2 separate regions of the Homo sapiens genome follow, and region 2 is linked to region 1. Evidence: fine-mapped expression QTL. A gene starts in region 1. The other region holds a variant in brackets. All regions are shown on one strand. Distances are between the middles of the regions.

What was found. PIP is the estimated chance that this variant, and not a neighbour inherited with it, causes the effect.
Region 2: its variant is fine-mapped to the expression of CYB5D1 in whole blood (TOPMed, PIP above 0.99).

The regions. Positions count from the first base shown.
Region 1 is chr17:7,853,445-7,862,626 of GRCh38, forward strand. CYB5D1 (cytochrome b5 domain containing 1) reads left to right here and starts at 4,559. Exons shown (of 4, transcript NM_144607.6): 1 at 4,559-4,850; 2 at 4,959-5,035; 3 at 5,162-5,380; 4 at 5,938-8,838. The coding sequence starts at 4,691. The coding sequence ends at 6,168. It overlaps KDM6B (lysine demethylase 6B), which reads left to right. Exons shown (of 24, transcript NM_001348716.2): 24 at 54-1,352. The coding sequence ends at 77. It overlaps TMEM88 (transmembrane protein 88), which reads left to right and starts at 1,622. Exons shown (of 2, transcript NM_203411.2): 1 at 1,622-1,840; 2 at 2,001-2,655. The coding sequence starts at 1,631. The coding sequence ends at 2,270. NAA38 (N-alpha-acetyltransferase 38, NatC auxiliary subunit) reads right to left here and starts at 4,115. Exons shown (of 3, transcript NM_001320925.4): 1 at 3,939-4,115; 2 at 3,571-3,754; 3 at 3,241-3,399. The coding sequence starts at 4,019. The coding sequence ends at 3,287. RefSeq lists enhancers at 1-308, 2,541-3,078, 3,200-3,279, 3,812-4,674, 3,930-4,299 and 3 more.
Region 2 is chr17:7,889,013-7,898,194 of GRCh38, forward strand. CHD3 (chromodomain helicase DNA binding protein 3) reads left to right here. Exons shown (of 40, transcript NM_001005273.3): 1 at 1-88; 2 at 652-764; 3 at 1,559-1,729; 4 at 1,928-2,052; 5 at 4,274-4,557; 6 at 4,793-4,923; 7 at 5,103-5,253; 8 at 5,403-5,596; 9 at 5,905-6,138; 10 at 6,327-6,530; 11 at 8,071-8,282; 12 at 8,959-9,090. Among named protein-coding and RNA genes, the nearest start is that of CHD3, 4.8 kb to the left of the region's middle. RefSeq lists enhancers at 209-778, 4,736-5,935. The variant T/A (reference allele first, on the strand shown) is at 4,567.

The DNA of each region.
Region 1 (9,182 bases):
TCGGGAGCCCGGCCGCGCCTTTCCCTGAGCCCCCGCCGGCTTTCTCCCCCCAGGCCCCAGCCAGCACGTCGCGATGAGGCCGGACGCCCCGCCCGCCTGCCTGCCCGCGCAAGGCGCCGCGGGGCCACCAGCACATGCCTGGGCTGGACCTAGGTCCCGCCTGTGGCCGAGAAGGGGGTCGGGCCCAGCCCTTCCACCCCATTGGCAGCTCCCCTCACTTAATTTATTAAGAAAAACTTTTTTTTTTTTTTTAGCAAATATGAGGAAAAAAGGAAAAAAAATGGGAGACGGGGGAGGGGGCTGGCAGCCCCTCGCCCACCAGCGCCTCCCCTCACCGACTTTGGCCTTTTTAGCAACAGACACAAGGACCAGGCTCCGGCGGCGGCGGGGGTCACATACGGGTTCCCTCACCCTGCCAGCCGCCCGCCCGCCCGGCGCAGATGCACGCGGCTCGTGTATGTACATAGACGTTACGGCAGCCGAGGTTTTTAATGAGATTCTTTCTATGGGCTTTACCCCTCCCCCGGAACCTCCTTTTTTACTTCCAATGCTAGCTGTGACCCCTGTACATGTCTCTTTATTCACTTGGTTATGATTTGTATTTTTTGTTCTTTTCTTGTTTTTTTGTTTTTAATTTATAACAGTCCCACTCACCTCTATTTATTCATTTTTGGGAAAACCCGACCTCCCACACCCCCAAGCCATCCTGCCCGCCCCTCCAGGGACCGCCCGTCGCCGGGCTCTCCCCGCGCCCCAGTGTGTGTCCGGGCCCGGCCCGACCGTCTCCACCCGTCCGCCCGCGGCTCCAGCCGGGTTCTCATGGTGCTCAAACCCGCTCCCCTCCCCTACGTCCTGCACTTTCTCGGACCAGTCCCCCCACTCCCGACCCGACCCCAGCCCCACCTGAGGGTGAGCAACTCCTGTACTGTAGGGGAAGAAGTGGGAACTGAAATGGTATTTTGTAAAAAAAATAAATAAAATAAAAAAATTAAAGGTTTTAAAGAAAGAACTATGAGGAAAAGGAACCCCGTCCTTCCCAGCCCCGGCCAACTTTAAAAAACACAGACCTTCACCCCCACCCCCTTTTCTTTTTAAGTGTGAAACAACCCAGGGCCAGGGCCTCACTGGGGCAGGGACACCCCGGGGTGAGTTTCTCTGGGGCTTTATTTTCGTTTTGTTGGTTGTTTTTTCTCCACGCTGGGGCTGCGGAGGGGTGGGGGGTTTACAGTCCCGCACCCTCGCACTGCACTGTCTCTCTGCCCCAGGGGCAGAGGGGTCTTCCCAACCCTACCCCTATTTTCGGTGATTTTTGTGTGAGAATATTAATATTAAAAATAAACGGAGAAAAAAAATCCTGTTTCGCTAACGGCTGGTGGTAGCAGGTTGAGTACCGGGAGGGCTGCAAGACCGTGATTGATGGGGAGGACTGCGCAGACCCTGGCGAGGGTGAGCCCCTCCCCGGAGGCGCCTGTGGAATGTCCAGGGCTCTGGTCCGCTCCTCGGGATGGGGGGTGCCTAATCCTAGAGCCGCATTCCAGGATAAGGGGGGTGGGGAGAGGCTGGGCCGGGGGAGGGGCAGGAAAGAGGGCTATAAGGGCAGCGGCCCAGGCGGGCGGGATCCAGGCGGGCCATGGCGGATGTCCCCGGGGCACAGCGAGCGGTTCCTGGTGACGGCCCAGAGCCCCGGGACCCCCTGGACTGTTGGGCCTGCGCTGTTCTTGTAACAGCCCAGAATCTGCTGGTGGCTGCCTTCAATCTTCTCCTGCTGGTGCTGGTGCTAGGGACCATCTTGCTACCCGCTGTCACCATGCTGGGCTTCGGCTTCCTCTGCCACTCTCAGGTGAGCGTGCGCCCCGGGGTGTGCGTGTGAGTGTGAGTGTTGGTGTGTGGTGATGCTGGCGGTGGGGTCTATGGGCCACAACTTCAACCCGCCTGGGCTGTTTCCACCCCGTGCACAGTATCGCCTGGTCGGCTTGGGCCTGACGCCTCTTCTCCCACAGTTCCTGCGCTCCCAGGCACCCCCTTGCACCGCGCACCTGCGGGACCCCGGTTTCACGGCCCTACTGGTCACCGGATTCCTGCTCCTCGTGCCGCTGCTCGTGCTTGCTCTGGCCAGCTACCGCCGCCTCTGCCTGCGCCTCCGCCTAGCCGATTGCCTCGTGCCCTACAGCCGAGCCCTTTATCGGCGTCGGCGCGCCCCGCAGCCGCGGCAAATCCGGGCCTCACCAGGGTCCCAGGCCGTTCCCACATCAGGAAAGGTCTGGGTCTAATGACCCTCGAGTCAAGAACAACCCTGACGGCTGCCCTCCCTCTTATTCGGCCCAAGGACTTGAAGCCCGGCATCTTCCGACCTGCCCTGCCCCCACCCCTGCCTGAGCGGAGTCCTAGCATCCCCTTGGGAGCAGCAGCGTCAGTGGACCCAGTGCTGAGAAAAGCCCCCACATCCCGGAAAACCCACTTTCCTTTCACGACCCACATCTCAATCCTGAACATCTAGGCTGGAACCTGCACACCTCCCCCTCAGCTCCGTCGTGAATGGGACAACAATCTCGTGCCCTCGTTTTATGGTGCAGCTTCTCTAGTATTTCTGGGGCTGGGGGGCGGGGCTGGAGGGGAAGGAGTGTCCACGCATCAATAAAGATTTAACGAACTGAACGCGCTCTGCGAACAGAGGCGTGGCACAAGTACTATCACCCCTGCCCTGTGCCGAGGAACAGGAAACATGTGCCAGGGCTACAAATGAGCAGAGAGGAGCATCCTTGAGCCCCCTGGCCTTATCGCTTTTGTCCGTTCTTCCTGGCCAGACCTCAGAGATCTGTTCCTGACCCCAGGCACCTCCCCCTCAATAGAGTGGAGGGGCCCAGCCTCGGCCGCCTGCCGCTGCTCCCCTTGGGGACCTGAGCCCGTTCTCTGACCCCAGCTTAGAGGAACTCGGTGTTGCCAGGCCGGGGTGGGAAACAATGGGCCTTCCGGAGCAGGATGACACCCCCTCCCGCCACAATTCTGGAGCAGCAGCCGTGGGAGGGAAGATGCAGGGGCCCACCCTGGGGCCTGTTGGTCCGTCATTCAGCCCTGCCCCCCATCTCTACCCCTGAACTTGAGAGAACCTTTGGCACCCCTGGACATCTTGGTTGGGAGAGGAGGGTTGAGGGTGCTCCCGACTTCAGATGAGCCCTTTCCTCTAGGGATGGGGTGTGCTATCCTGCACCGGCATCCCAGCTACACACAGACACAGGCCCATTCGGTCATAAGTTTAATGAAGTCTGAAAGGTAAGCGCCATCGTGGTCAGAGATACGGAGGCCCGGTCAGACTCTCCCTCTGCACCTCAATGGAAACGATGTGGTGTCCGGGTACCATGGCCAGGCCCAGCACACGGGGCTCCCCGGCAGAGAAGGAATCTGGAAAGAAGGATCAGAGCATCAGGAAAGTAGGCCAGAATCAGTCCCGCCCCTCTGAGCCACGAAAACGAGCCCCAGAAAACAAGGGTTGCAGCCAGGCCCTTAAGGGGAAATGCCTTGCGTAAGGTTCCGCCACATTACCAGGCGGGTGTGCATTCCCCGGGCACTGACCCGACGGCTTGAGGAACTCCTGCGCCGAGCCCAGGATGACATTGCAGTCACGGTCAGTGCAGAGGAAGCAGCCGACCAGTGTCCGTCCATCTGTCATGCGAATGCGCATAGTCTTGTTGAGCAGCGCCTCTAGCTGCTGTCGGGCGCGCTCAGCCGCCGAGTCCTCGCGCTCTCCGTCCGAATCCTGCGCGGGGTGTAACAAGCGCTCAGACCGCGCAGCCCAGGCTGCCCGCCCGCGGAACCACAGCTCCCGGCAGCCCGCGGGGCACTCACACAAAGCCCAGAGGCTGCCGGGAGCTGCAGTTCCCCACCCCCTCCATCTTGCTGCTTGACTGCCCCTCAGTCCCAGAACCAGAGCCCGTGCTAACCCCAGCACTGGAGCTGCTCTGACGCCGACTGCAACAGCCATTCTCTTCTCGTAGCAGCATGGTCGGTCCAGCTCCGGCCATTTGCCCGGAGGCCTCCTCTGGGCCTTTCAACTTCCTAAGCACCTTTCAGGTTGGGTGGTCCGAGATCTCGCGAGCGCTCCCGACCTCTTTCCTTTCGCGAGATCCCCTCTCCTCCCCCTCCTAGTCTCCTCGGCAACGGCACAGATCTCGCGAGCTTCTCCTACTTCTCTAGCGCTGTGGCTCACTGAAGCGTACTACGCCGGATGTCTTAAGATATCGCGAGACCTTTACCTCTGGTTTCTTACACATCCTTTAGAAACTGGAATTTAGCGAGAATACATTCTTTCATACTGCCTCCTCCCTTGTTTTTCTGTCTCAGAGAGATAGTCTGTCCTAAATATCCCATGTAGCCCAGGCCACTGAATTAAAACGGAGCGTATTCGTTCTCTGCCCCACCCCGCAACTCCTGAAAGCGGCGCAACTCAATTACTTGATCCTTATATGCCCCACGCGGGACTCATACTACGTTTCCCGTGAACACGTGCAGTCCAAACCCCGCCCCTGATATTTATCTCAGTGGACGGTGGCCGGAAAAGGACAATGGTTTCCATGTCAGCGGATAAACGCTCTCCCCTCGGCTCCCGGACGCGACGGAGGTCGTAGTAGTAGTGAGTACGTGCTGAGGAGCAAAGGAGTAACCAAGAGATCCAGTGACCGACAGAGCAAGAGCCATGCCGCGCCGGGGCCTGGTGGCTGGGCCAGACTTGGAGTATTTTCAGCGTCGCTATTTCACGCCGGCGGAGGTGGCCCAACATAACAGGCCCGAAGACCTCTGGGTATCTTACCTGGGACGCGTGTACGACCTAACGTCATTGGCACAGGAATACAAGGGTAAGGGCCACACGTTGGGCCGGGGCCGGAGTGTGTGTGTGTGCACGCGCGCGTTTGCCTGGTTCTCGAAGGGCTGGCATTGACAGTGGCTGTGCTGCTCTTTTCAAGGGAACCTGCTGCTGAAACCCATCGTGGAAGTTGCAGGCCAGGATATCAGCCACTGGTTTGATCCAAAGACCAGAGACGTGAGTTATGCTGGAACCTGGGATTGTGGGTAGAGGAAATGGAGAGCGGGGATGGGAAGGAAAGGCGGAGGCTAGCCAGAGCCTAATGGCTGCTCTGACACCCTCGCCCCAAACCCTCCTTTAAAGATCCGCAAGCACATAGATCCGCTGACCGGCTGCCTGAGGTACTGCACCCCGCGGGGCCGCTTTGTGCACGTTCCGCCTCAGCTGCCCTGTTCGGACTGGGCCAACGATTTTGGGAAGCCCTGGTGGCAGGGGTCGTATTATGAGGTGGGGCGGCTGTCTGCCAAGACCCGGAGCATCCGCATCATTAACACGCTCACGTCGCAGGAGCACACACTGGAGGTGAGAACTGGTGACAAGGAGCAGGTTAGAAGGAATGGGGAATCCCAGCAAATCTCCAGGCCGATCTTCAGGGCAACATTTTTTCCATAACCGGTGGGAGTGTATTTTCTGTCCTTTACATTGAGGCAACTGAGGAAAGCACAGCACCTAGGTCCCCAGGGTTGGGAATTCTAGGAGTGTCTGGGTCACAGGGGGACAAGAGACTCCTTTATAAGCCTGGGAACAGCAGTTCATGTATCTTAGTGATGGTGGTCCTTCGAAGCTCTTACACGCCGTTTTGGACAGCAATTGGACTTTCTTTTTAATCTACTCTGTTGCATGGATATAGTGAGGGGACAGTTGACCCTTTATGGCCATCCGGTAGTTAGAAGTGGCTGCCATTAAGATCTGTAGGACTTTAGGGTCTGCTCATTGCATGCTGGAGTTTCAGCTTTTTTTTCCCGGGGCCGTAGAGTACCTGAAGCTGCTATCTGCCAAGGGAGGCACTTTGATCCCAGCGTGTGTATATGTATACTCCATCCAGAATTCTGGGGGTGGGGTGCTTCTGTGTTCTCCAGGTGGGGGTTCTGGAGTCCATATGGGAAATCCTACACCGCTATCTCCCCTATAACTCACATGCTGCCAGCTACACGTGGAAATATGAAGGGAAGAACCTGAACATGGATTTTACCCTGGAAGAGAATGGGATCCGGGATGAGGAGGAAGAATTTGACTATCTCAGTATGGACGGTACACTTCACACACCTGCAATACTTCTGTACTTCAATGATGATCTCACGGAGTTGTAGGCAAGGAGATGTACACTCGTGTAGACTCAAGACGTATTTCGAGTTTGGCTTTTTCTGTGCCTTGAGGAAAAGTGGTGGGGCCGAGGGGTGCCTGGACCCAGATCTCCACTCCTCTCCAGGAGCTAGCCTGTGCCCTTCTGAAGTGTAAAGGCCCTATTCCCTGCCTTCATTACAGTTTGCTCTGAGAAAATTAGTGAATTAATCTTTGGGAATGATACAAGAAGATCAAGTACCTTGGTTTAGGGAGATGTAGAAGAGGATAGTCAGAGTTCAGGCAGAACTGTTTGATAGTTAAGAGAGAGTAGTTCTACAGGGGTGAGGGATGGAAGGACTTTTTTGGCAATGATGGAAATGAGATGTCTGCAGGAAGATGGGATTTACAAAGAAATAGGAAATGTTTATCATTGACCATACAAAGCTGGCTTATCTTACTTGTAGAAGAGTGTTTGGCAGCTGAAACCCAAGGGAAAGAAAGGAAGTGCGTCATTATAGGCAATTCAGGCTAGATATTATACTAGGTACTTCATATACCCTCTTTTTTTTTTTTGCCCCCAACAAAGAGAAGGGGTCTTGCTCTGTCACCCAGTCTGGAGTGCAGTGGCAAAATCATGGCTCACTGCAGCCTGGAGCTCCTGGGCACAAGTGATCCTCCCATCTCTGCCTTGAGTAGCTGGGACTTCAGGTGCACGCCACAATGCCTAATTTTTTAATTTTTTGTAGACACAGGGTCTCGCTGTGTTGCCCAGGCTGGTTTCAACCTCCTGGCCTCAAGTGATCCTCTTGCCTCAGCCTCCCAAATAGCCTCTTCAAGACAACTACCCCATAAGGTGGATTACCATTACTATGTTACAGATAAGTCCTTCGAAACTTTGGAAAGTTTAATAGCTCAAAGCCACACTAGGTAGTAACCACTAGAGCCAGAATGCAAATTCAAGTCTGCCCAACTCCAAAGTCCATGTTCTCTCAATATAAAGGGACCATCTCAATGTCTAATCTCATGTTAACATTTGTAGCCACTGCTCTCAGCAAGTATTTGGGATGTGGCTTTGTCCTAGGATCCCTGCACAATAGGAAATTGTGGTCCTATTGTATAGTTTGCAGTTATTGTCTCTGGAAGGGAGTTTGCAGAGTTCTCCTGTGGCGAAGAGGAGGCAAGGAAGGCTAAGTGTCAGTTAAGCAATAGCTATTGGGGCTACTTCTTTGTTAATCCCATACCCCAGATTTCTCTCCTGACCTTTTGGGGCAAAGAGGTGGGTATTTACTAACTTGAAGGAAAACTAGAGTGGGGAAAAGGCCGGCAAATTAGTGACACTTTGGCGAGGGAGAAAAAGGAGGCAGTTTGCCACTTGGAGAAGATGAGGAAGACAGGGTTGCAAGACGGTGACTCCAAAAGAGGGAGCTCGACAGGGGTAATGTAAACAGAGATGCTAACTAAGTCAGAAAACTCTCCTGGTGACCAAAAGAGAACCACTATTGGGGGTAATGGCTAGATTTGGTCTCCTTTAACTTAAGGAGGGGAGATTTGAGAATGACAGACAGTTGAACTTCCTGGCAGCAGCAAGCAAAAAACAAATCAGGAAGAGTTTAGTGTGTCTTCTGGCAGGGGACACCAGGGCCCAGCACAGGAGAAGGTGGCCCCTGTGAGATACTGGTGGGCTATATAGGCATTTTCTGAGGGGCTTTGGGAGGCATGAACAAAGGTGGAAACATTGCTGTTGGCTTCGGCAGTATCTGAATTTACTGTGAGATGGAGGGTTTAAATCTAACCCCATGGAATGCAGGAGTCCATGAATTATCTAAATCGATCATTTTGATCTTTAATCAACTCTGCAATTATGTGTACCTTGTTTGCTCAATTAAACCCTGAACTATTTGAGAATGAAAGCTATGCTGTTCCTCTAGTGCAAGCCTCAGGGCCTGTCCTGTGCCTACAGGATGTCCCCATTCTGCCAAAACCTGTCCCTCTTCCAGAGACTCCTACTTCAATGTCTCTTGCTAGAAACACATCCCTTTCCTCACACATCCAGTCACTCATCAAGTGTAATCTGTCTCCTAAATATCTCTGGAACCTATCTTCTTTTCTCCAAGTTACCATCACCTCTTGTCTAAACTGCTACGGAAACTTCCTAACCTGTTCTCCCATTTCCACTTCTGACTTCCATGCTGCAATGAGAGTCAGCTATGAAAAACAAACCTAAACATCGAACTTTCCTTAGCTTCTTCAGTGGCTTCCAACTGCTTTTGGAATAAAGTCCTAAATTCAAAGATCTTGTATAAATCAGGCTCATCTCGCAACACCCCTCTTTGTTCTCTATGGCCTAGACACACTGGCTTTCAGTTCATTACATGTCTTGCCTCAGACCCTCACACACTGTCCTCTCTGCCTGCAACACTCTTCCTTTCACTTTCCACCTAGCTGATCCTAAATGTTCCTTCCTCAGGGAGGTCTTTTCTGATTTCTTGGTGGGTCAAGACTTTCTGATAAATCAGTTAGCACCATGCATTTTCCAGAGTTTTTATTACAATTGTAAAATTATGGCTGTAATAGGCTGGCTGCGCTGCTAGATTGTAAGCTCACGAGGGCAGAGATCTTGTTCACATCTTGCTCACTGCTATATTCTCATTGCTGAGCACACAGTTGCAGCTCAATAAATTTTGAATGAACTCCAATGTTAAGTGAACTCATCCGTCTATACCTAGTGGGGGGGATGTTGTGTCCTAGTAGGCAAGGAAGGACCAAGAAATAGGATGTCTGGTTCCTGTGCTATAGTCTCTATCCATAGGATTCACTTTCCTTGCTTCCCCAATATCCAAAACCAAAAGTTATTCCATAGAGGGTCTCTGGCCAGGTGCAGTGACTCACGCCTGTAATCCCAGAACTTTGGGAGGCCGAGGCATGGGGATCACCTGAGGTCAGGAGTTCAAGACCAGCCTGGCCAACCTGGCAAAAGCCTGTTTCTACTAAAAATCCAAAAAATTAGCCGGGCGTGGTGGCACACACCTATAATCCCAGC
Region 2 (9,182 bases), 36 kb after region 1:
GACACTGTGATCCTGTGGGCAAGAAGTAAAAATGACCAGCTGAGGATTTCTTTTCCTCCAGGACTGTGTTGGGGTGACAGGATGCCTGGTAATTATCCGAGGAAATGTAAATAGAGGCCTCCCTCTTGGCAAAAGGATGTCAGGGCCCCAGGGTGTTAGTGTGAGAACCCAGGTGTCCACCTTTGGCTCTCCCTCCCCAGCATCTGGCTTAGGGAGCTGCCAGCTTGTGTCTCCCCACTCCAAGTGCTGGGGTCAGGCCAGGCCAGCAGCTGGGCATGGCTTCCCCAGTTCCTGGGCAGGATGCCAGCTGGCGAAGTGAGGGGGAAGGCAGGAGGAGCCCTGGCGGTGACTGAAAGGACCTGCCACAGTCAGAGCCCATGGCCTGGAGCCTGGTCTCTTGTTAGTAGGAGGGGAGGGAGGGGAGTGGTTTGGCTGCTCTTCTCTTCTGACCCCTGACCTCCCATTCAGAACCAGAGCATCCCAGAGTACTCGAAACACTTTCTGTTTGCATCCAGTGAAGGGAGGCAGGGCTTGGAGGAGTTAATGCTTCCTAGAGAGTGGGAACTGCCGAGGTGGGGAAGGGGCAAGTTGAGGGGCCTCAGAGGCTGGAAACCTAGAGGCTTAGGTTTTCTGATGCTTTTTGCTTCAAAGATAAGGATGACATTCGGCTGCTGCCGTCAGCATTGGGTGTGAAGAAGAGAAAACGAGGACCCAAGAAGCAGAAGGAGAACAAGCCAGGAAAACCCCGAAAACGCAAGAAGCGTGTAAGTGTCAAGAATTCCTAACTCTGTGGCAAGGCTCAAGAGACCCATTCTCAGAGACCTACATTTTCTCTGGTCCTGATTACTGGTGTGGGGGTGGGGTTCTGAAGCCAGGGAGGCTTGATCCCCCGGGCCCCCCACTTCCCTGCCACTGTTGGCCTGTATCTCAGGGATCTGGGACCCTAACTTCATTCACTGCAACCTAGTGAAGAGCCTCGTTGTCAGTGTGTCCTCAGCAGCAAAGAGAAGCAGTTGAAAGCACAAGCTCTGGAAGACTGTATGAATTCAAGAGTCCAGCATTCCTCTGTCTAGGATACCAGGCCGTTTATTTGGCTCTCTGTGCCTTAGTTTCCTCATCTGTAAAAAGTAGATAAAGGCCGGTTGCAGTGGCTCACGCCTGTAATCCCAGCACTTTGGGAGGCTGAGCCGGGTAGATCATTTGAGGTCAGGAGTTCGCGACAAGCCTGGCCAATGTGGTGAAACTCCGTCTCTACTAAAAATACAAAAATCAGCCGGGCGCGGTGGTACGTCTGTAATCCCAGCTACACAGGAGGCTGAGGCAGGAGAATCGCTTGAACCCGGGAGGTGGAGGTTGCAGTGAGCCGAGATCACGTCAGTGCACTCCAGCATGGGTGACAGAGCAAGACTCCATCTCCAAAAAAAAAAAGGAGATAAAAAATTAGTTACTATCACAGGATTGTTGTGAAGATTAAAAGAGGTAAGATATGGTATGTGCTGAGAACAGTTTCTGGCAATGGTAGGGATGAATAAATGTTATTTTTATTTCTTTCTCTTAGGACAGTGAGGAGGAATTTGGTTCTGAGCGAGATGAGTACCGGGAGAAGTCAGAGAGTGGGGGCAGTGAATATGGAACCGGACCGGGTCGGAAACGAAGAAGGAAGCACCGAGAAAAAAAGGAGAAGAAGACAAAGCGGCGGAAAAAGGGGGAGGGAGATGGGGGGCAAAAGGTGAGTAGAATTAGGGAATGAGAGTGAGAAATCTGCATTAAAGACGGGCATGAGGAGGGGAGGAATGGAGACTGGACTGGAGAATGGGGCAAGAAGCAAGAAAGCCCAGGGAAGCTAGTGGGTAGGTAGACAGGCCTGTGTGCGGCCTGGAATAGGGGCTGGAGGAGCACCTACTTCACCAAAGCCCCTCTCCCGCAGCAAGTGGAACAGAAGTCATCAGCAACTCTGCTTCTGACCTGGGGCCTGGAGGATGTGGAGCATGTGTTCTCTGAGGAGGATTACCACACGCTCACCAACTACAAAGCCTTCAGCCAGTTCATGAGGTGCGGTAAGACTGGGGAATCCTCGCTAATTGACACTTTTAATTTGAGGGAGGTCCTGGACCCCTTGGAATCTGATGAAAGCTATGAAACTGCTCTCCAGAGAATTCACGGTGTATACACACCAAATTCTACACGTCATTTCAGGGAACTCCTAGACTCATAAGGATCCAAGAACCCCAGTTGAGAACTCTTCACTGAGGGGCGAGGGGTGGAGGGGCCATCATGATTCCAGTGCTGGGTTAGAGAACTCTTTAGCAACAGAATAAAGTGAGGACAGAATATAGTGAGCCCTCCCCTGCCCCAACAGCTCCATCTTCTGCTCTGTGACTTCTCTCTAGACTGGACCTGAGAGATACCATCAGTGTTCCTGAACTTCCTTAGCTCACTTAGCAGGTCCTGTGCCCCTTCCTTAGGCCCTGGTAATAATGGAGGGTCCACTGCTGGCAGTGGGACCTGAGCTTCAGTGGCTCCTGAAGAAAAGTAGAGAATAGTAGAGTAGAAAATAGCAGAGATGGGCCAGGTGCAGTGGCTCATGCCTGTAATCCAAGCACTTTGGGAGGCCAAGGCAGGTGGATCGCCTGAGGTCAGGAGTTCAGGACCAGCCCATCCAACATGGTGAAACCCCGTCTCTACTAAATACAAAAAAATTAGCTGGGCGTGGTGGCACATGCCTGTAATCCCAGCTACTCGGGAGGCTAAGGCAGGAGAATCGCTTGAACCCGGGAGGCAAAGGTTGTAGTGAGCCGAGATCACACCACTGCTATGCTCTAGCCTGGGCAACAAGCGAAACTCCGTCTCAAAAAAAAAAAAAGAAAAAATAGTGCCGATGTATTTTGTTTTGGGGAGAAGGCACTTTAACATATCAGTTCAGTGCTCTGGAGGCAGCTGCTGAGGTTCACATCTGGTTACATTTTGGGCAAGTGACTGAACTTCTTCAATCCTCAATTTCCTCTTCTATAAACGGGGAATAATAATATATACCTCATAGGAATCTGTGTGGGTTTGGTGGGATAATGAATGGAAAGCACAGTACCGTCAGTGCCTGGCTCCTAGGGAGCATTCAGTAACTGGTGACTGTCATTAGTAACGTTGTCTCACCTACCTTACTGCTGAACTTGGGGCTTTTCTCAGCACCATGGATCACCCGTGTCCGCACAAGAGTTGAGCACCCCACCCCAGAGCAGAACCAGCATGGTCTGACTCTTTCACACTCCGTCCTACGGAAGCCCATCTTCAGGGCCCATGGAACTTACTAGTAAAATGCAGAGAATCATAGCAACTCAAGAGTATTATTGTGAGGACAAGATAAGGTGGAATGTATGTGAAAGGGTTTTATGAACTGTAAAGTAGTATACAAAAGTAAAGCATTTTTGTTGATTTTATTTTAACCTTTTATGCTTTTAAGTTTTATTTCGCTGTTTTTTATTTCCCCTTTTTTTTTTTTTTTTTTTGAGATGGAATCTCACTCTGTCGCCAGGCTGGAGTGTAGTGGCGCAATCTTGGCTCACTGCAACCTCTGCCTCCCAGGTTCAAGCAATTTTTCTGCCTCAGCCTCCCGAGTAGCTGAGACTACAGGTGCGCACCACTACACCCAGCTAATTTTTGTATTTTTAGTAGAGACGGGGTTTCGCCATGTTGGCCAGGATGGTCTCCATCTCTTGACCTCGTGATCCTCCCACCTTGGCCTCCCAAAGTACTGGGATTACAGGCGTGAGCCACTGCGCCCAGCCTATTTCCCTTTTTTTAAAGACAGGGTCTCATTCTGTCACCCAGGCTGCACTGCAGTGGTGTGATCATAGCTCACTATATCCTCCAACTCCTGGGCTCAAGCCACCCTCCTGCCTCAGCCTCAGGTGCTGCCACACCCAGCTAATTATTTTTTTTTATTTTAATTTTTTGTAGAGACAGGATCTCACTTTGTTGCCCAGGCTTATCTCATAGCCCTGGGCTCAAGCAATCCTCCTGCTTCAGCCTGGAATTACAGGCATGAGCCACCGTGCCTGGCCTGTATTTCTTTTTTAATGCTTTTTTAAACCTGTTCTTTCCCCGCTTTTTTTAAACTTCTTTTTATTTATTTTTTTAAATGGCTGTTTTTCCTAATAGGACATATTCTCACCACCCAGGAATCCTAGCATGTACATAGATTTAATTGATGAGGGGAGATGGCAGTGTTCCCAGACCATCTGTGAAGGGTCCGAGTTTTCTGCTTCTATATTTACAGGCCCCTAATTGCTAAGAAGAATCCTAAGATCCCAATGTCTAAGATGATGACCATCCTTGGGGCCAAATGGAGAGAGTTCAGTGCCAACAACCCCTTCAAGGGGTCAGCAGCTGCTGTGGCGGCGGCAGCGGCAGCAGCAGCAGCAGCTGTAGCTGAGCAGGTGTCAGCTGCTGTCTCGTCGGCCACCCCCATAGCACCCTCCGGACCCCCCGCCCTTCCACCACCCCCTGCTGCTGATATCCAGCCCCCACCCATCCGAAGAGCCAAAACCAAAGAGGGCAAAGGTAGGGAAC[T/A]CTCTTCCAACAACTGTCATCTCACCTTCCAAACTGCATGTCTTCACATTAGAGTCTGGAACTCTCGCCTTCCCAGCCCTGATTGCTGGAGGAGAGATGCTTTCCAGGAAGTGGGGCTTAGTGAAACCACAGCCCACAGAGGAATCCAGAGGCCCCTGTGACCTCCATAATTCCAGGATGTCATGACCTCTCCTTTTTCCTCTTCTCACCCCGACTCCTCATTCAGGTCCAGGCCATAAGAGGCGGAGTAAGAGCCCCCGAGTGCCTGATGGACGCAAGAAGCTTCGGGGAAAGAAAATGGCACCACTCAAAATAAAACTAGGGCTTCTGGGTGGCAAGAGGAAGAAAGGAGGCTCGGTGAGTGACCCGTCCCTGTCTACTAAACACCTGGGGGCCAAGGATCCAGAGACAGGGATCCGTGAGGGCCAAGGATCCAGAGACAGGGATCCGTGAGGGATGGCGGAACAGGAAGCCAAAGGCCTGGGGAGGGCGTAGAATGAAGTCTGCCTCACTGACGGCCACGGGGCTATGGGCAGTATGTTTTTCAGAGCGACGAAGGTCCTGAACCAGAGGCTGAGGAATCAGACCTGGACAGTGGCAGTGTCCACAGTGCCTCAGGCCGGCCTGATGGCCCTGTCCGCACCAAGAAACTAAAGAGAGGCCGGCCAGGAAGGAAGAAGAAGAAGGGTAAGGAGTGTTGACTGTGTGTGATCCTGTCAGTGGGCCGTCCTCTCATTCTTATTTTCAATTTTGACTTCTCTCTTCAACCCTTCTCCCTCTCTCTCTCCATCTCCCCCTGCCCTGCTTCCTTATCCCTCCACCGGGGTATATGACAGTCCTGGGCTGTCCTGCAGTGGCCGGGGAGGAGGAGGTTGATGGCTACGAGACGGATCACCAGGATTACTGTGAGGTGTGCCAGCAGGGTGGGGAAATTATTCTGTGTGACACCTGCCCTCGTGCCTACCACCTCGTCTGCCTTGATCCTGAGCTTGACCGGGCTCCAGAGGGCAAATGGAGCTGCCCTCACTGTGTGAGTACCTAATGCCAGCATCTGATGGCCCTGAGGAACCCACCCATCTCTTTCCCCCTTGGTTTCACTTACCCTCTTCCTGCCCCCAGATGGCTGGACTTCTTAGTAACAGATGTCCGAGTGTCTAGGATCCTAATGTATTCCTTTCTCCCACAATCAACATTTCTGAAACTGGAGTGTCCTTTTCCTTAGTTCCCACCAGTCTTCTCTGCACTTCTAGGATTCAGGTGTCCTGTCTTTGCCTGTATCTTCCAGTTTCATTCCTTAATTTCTTCCATCTGTCTGTGTGTCTATCCTTGGCCCCCTAGGAGAAGGAGGGGGTCCAGTGGGAGGCCAAGGAGGAAGAAGAAGAATACGAAGAGGAGGGAGAGGAAGAAGGGGAGAAGGAGGAGGAGGATGATCACATGGAGTACTGCCGCGTATGCAAGGACGGCGGGGAGCTCCTGTGCTGTGACGCGTGCATCTCCTCCTACCACATTCATTGTCTAAACCCTCCCCTGCCTGACATTCCCAATGGTGAATGGCTGTGTCCCCGATGCACAGTGAGTGGAAACATCTCCCCTCTGTATTTACTGTCAGGCCTGATCCCTTCCCCCATCCCTGGGGCCCACATGTCCAGCTTTTCATTTCTCTGCACTCCCCCACCCTTGTGGGACCCCTATCTTCTCATCTAACAATGGGTTCTTTCTGCCTCTTTCTTTCCTCCTCCTTGTACGTGTCCATCCCAAAGTGCCCCGTGCTGAAGGGTCGAGTGCAGAAGATCCTACATTGGCGGTGGGGGGAGCCACCTGTAGCAGTGCCAGCCCCTCAACAGGCAGATGGAAATCCAGATGTCCCACCCCCCCGTCCTCTTCAAGGCAGATCAGAGCGAGAGTTCTTTGTCAAGTGGGTAGGACTATCCTACTGGCACTGCTCCTGGGCCAAGGAGCTTCAGGTACTAGGACCTTTTCTTTCCCTCTCCCCCATGACCTCATTTCCTGCCATCCTCTCCCTCTCTTACTCCTCTGTTTGTTGGGTTCCCATACTCTTTGTTTTCTCTCATTTCAGGCCTGTGGCCTTCATACCCTACTTGCTTAGTTTCCATATGTGGTTCTTTTGGTCTACAGTCCTCTTTCTCTCAGTCTCCGTTAGCTTCCTTCCCTCAGATATAGCATAGCCTTTCCTAACTTCATGTCCTTCCTTATCTGTCTTTTTCCATGTTTTATAATATTCCTGGCTGGGCATGGTGGCTCACACCTATAATCCTAGCACTTTGGGAGGCCAAGGCAGGAGGATTGCTTGAGACCAGCCTGGGCAACATAGTGAAACCCCATCTCTGTTTAAAAAAAAATTCTCGGCTGGGTGTGGTGGCTCACGCCTGTAATCCCAGTACTTTGGGAGGCCGAGGTGGGCGGATCACCTGAGGTCAGGAGATCGAGACTATCCTGGCTAACATGGTGAAACCCCATCTCTACTAAAAATACAAAAAAATTAGCTGGGCGTGGTGGCAGGCACCTGTAGTCCCAGCTACTCAGGAGGCTGAGACAGGAGAATGGCGTGAACCCGGGAGGCGGAGCTTGCAGTGAGCCAAGATCGTGTCCCTGCACTTCAGCCTGGGCGACAGAGCGACACTCTATCTCAAAAAAAAAAAAAAAAAAAAAAAAATTCTCAATGTTTCTAATCCCATTCCCTATCTCTTGCTTGTAAGAGCCCCACCCAGGCCTTGTCTTCTGAAACTGTTGCATCTGTTTCATTTTATTTATTCTCCGTCTTGGCTTTGACTCATTTATCTCTAATCCATCCTTTTTCTTTTTTTTTCTATTTTTTTTTTTTTTTAGATGGAGTTTCGCTCTTGTTGCCTAGGCTGGAGTGCAGTGGCACGATCTTGGCTTACTGCAACCTCTGCCTCCTGGGTTCAAGCGATTCTCCTGCCTCAGCCACTCAAGTAGCTGGGATTACAGGCATGCGCCACCACGCTTGGCTAATTTTGTATTTTTAGTAGAGACGGGGTTTCTCCATGTTGATCAGGCTGGTCTCGAACTCCCAACCTCAGGTGATCCACCTGCCTCTGCCTCCCAAAGTGCTGGGACGCGCCTGTTATTCTCTTATTGCCCCGGCTGGAGTGCAGTGGTGTGATCTTGGCTCGCTGCAACCTCCGCCTCATGCATTCAAGCGATTCTCCTGCCTCAGCCTCCTGAGTATCTGGGATTACAGGCGTGCGCCACCACACCTGGCTAATTTCTGTATTTTTAGTAGAGACGGGGTTTCGCCATGTTGGCCAGGCTGGTCTTGAACTCCTGACCTCAGGTGATCCACCCGCCTGAGCCTCCTAAAGCACTGGGATTACAGGCATGAGCCACCGTGCCTGGGCCAATCCATCCTTTTTCATAGCTCCCTTTCCCTGTCCCATTCCTCCTGCCGGCCTCTTCCCGGTTCCTTGTTGTCCTCTGTGAGTGTCAGGACTATCTCTTTCCCTTTTTTCTGTGCCCTGCTAGCTGGAAATCTTCCATTTGGTTATGTATCGAAACTACCAGCGGAAGAATGACATGGATGAGCCCCCACCCCTGGACTATGGCTCCGGCGAGGATGATGGGAAGAGCGACAAGCGTAAAGTGAAAGACCCGCACTATGCTGAGATGGAGGAGAAGTACTATCGTTTTGGCATCAAGCCAGAGTGGATGACCGTCCACCGCATCATCAACCACAGGTGAATCCTCGGTCCCTGGGAAGTCAGACCTGGTATATGACATTATTCTTACCATGGTGATGGCCCCATGTTAGTATTTGCTGATTAACCAGGTAATTGATCTAACCTTGATAACCTCTGCTGTAGCTCCAGCCTTTCTGGCCTTGTTTCCTCCAGGGGAACGGGAGAAAACAGGAGGAAAATCCGGCCAGGCAGTGCCTCTTTTGTCCTTTGCCTCCTGTCATCTCCAGTGGCATAAGACATAGCACATGAGTCTGGGGATGAGGGCATGAAAGCAAAACATGAGAGACATAATTCATCCAGACCAGTGTTTTGAATGTTTCTTCTTCATAGTACTTATTACTGCCTAAACTTAATGGTATGTATTTAGTTATTTCAATGCTGCCTTCCCCACGAGACTCTGAGTTCCATGAGGAAAATACTTAGTGATTAGGTGAACAAATGATAAGGAGGGATCTCCAGGAATGTTTTGTGATAGCTGATTTTTAGGATACCATCCTGAGAAGGTTAGGCTGCTAGGTCAACTATTCCAATCTCCCTTCCAGCAGCTCACTGTTGACGGTTGGGTGACAAATTTTGTGTGTTTGCTGATAATTGCGTTTCTCAGGCCTTCTTTCTGTTTGTGATCTGTGCAATATTTTCCTCCTGCTCCTCCCCATGGCCTCCTGCCCCACAGTGTGGATAAAAAGGGGAATTACCACTATCTAGTAAAATGGAGGGACTTACCATATGACCAGTCCACGTGGGAGGAAGATGAAATGAATATCCCTGAATACGAAGAACATAAGCAAAGCTACTGGAGACACCGGTGAGGGAATGAGCTTGTGGATTCAAGGGATTCTGACGATGAGGGCATGAAAGCCAAAACTCCAGCATAAAATGAGGGTACAGTAGGGCCTG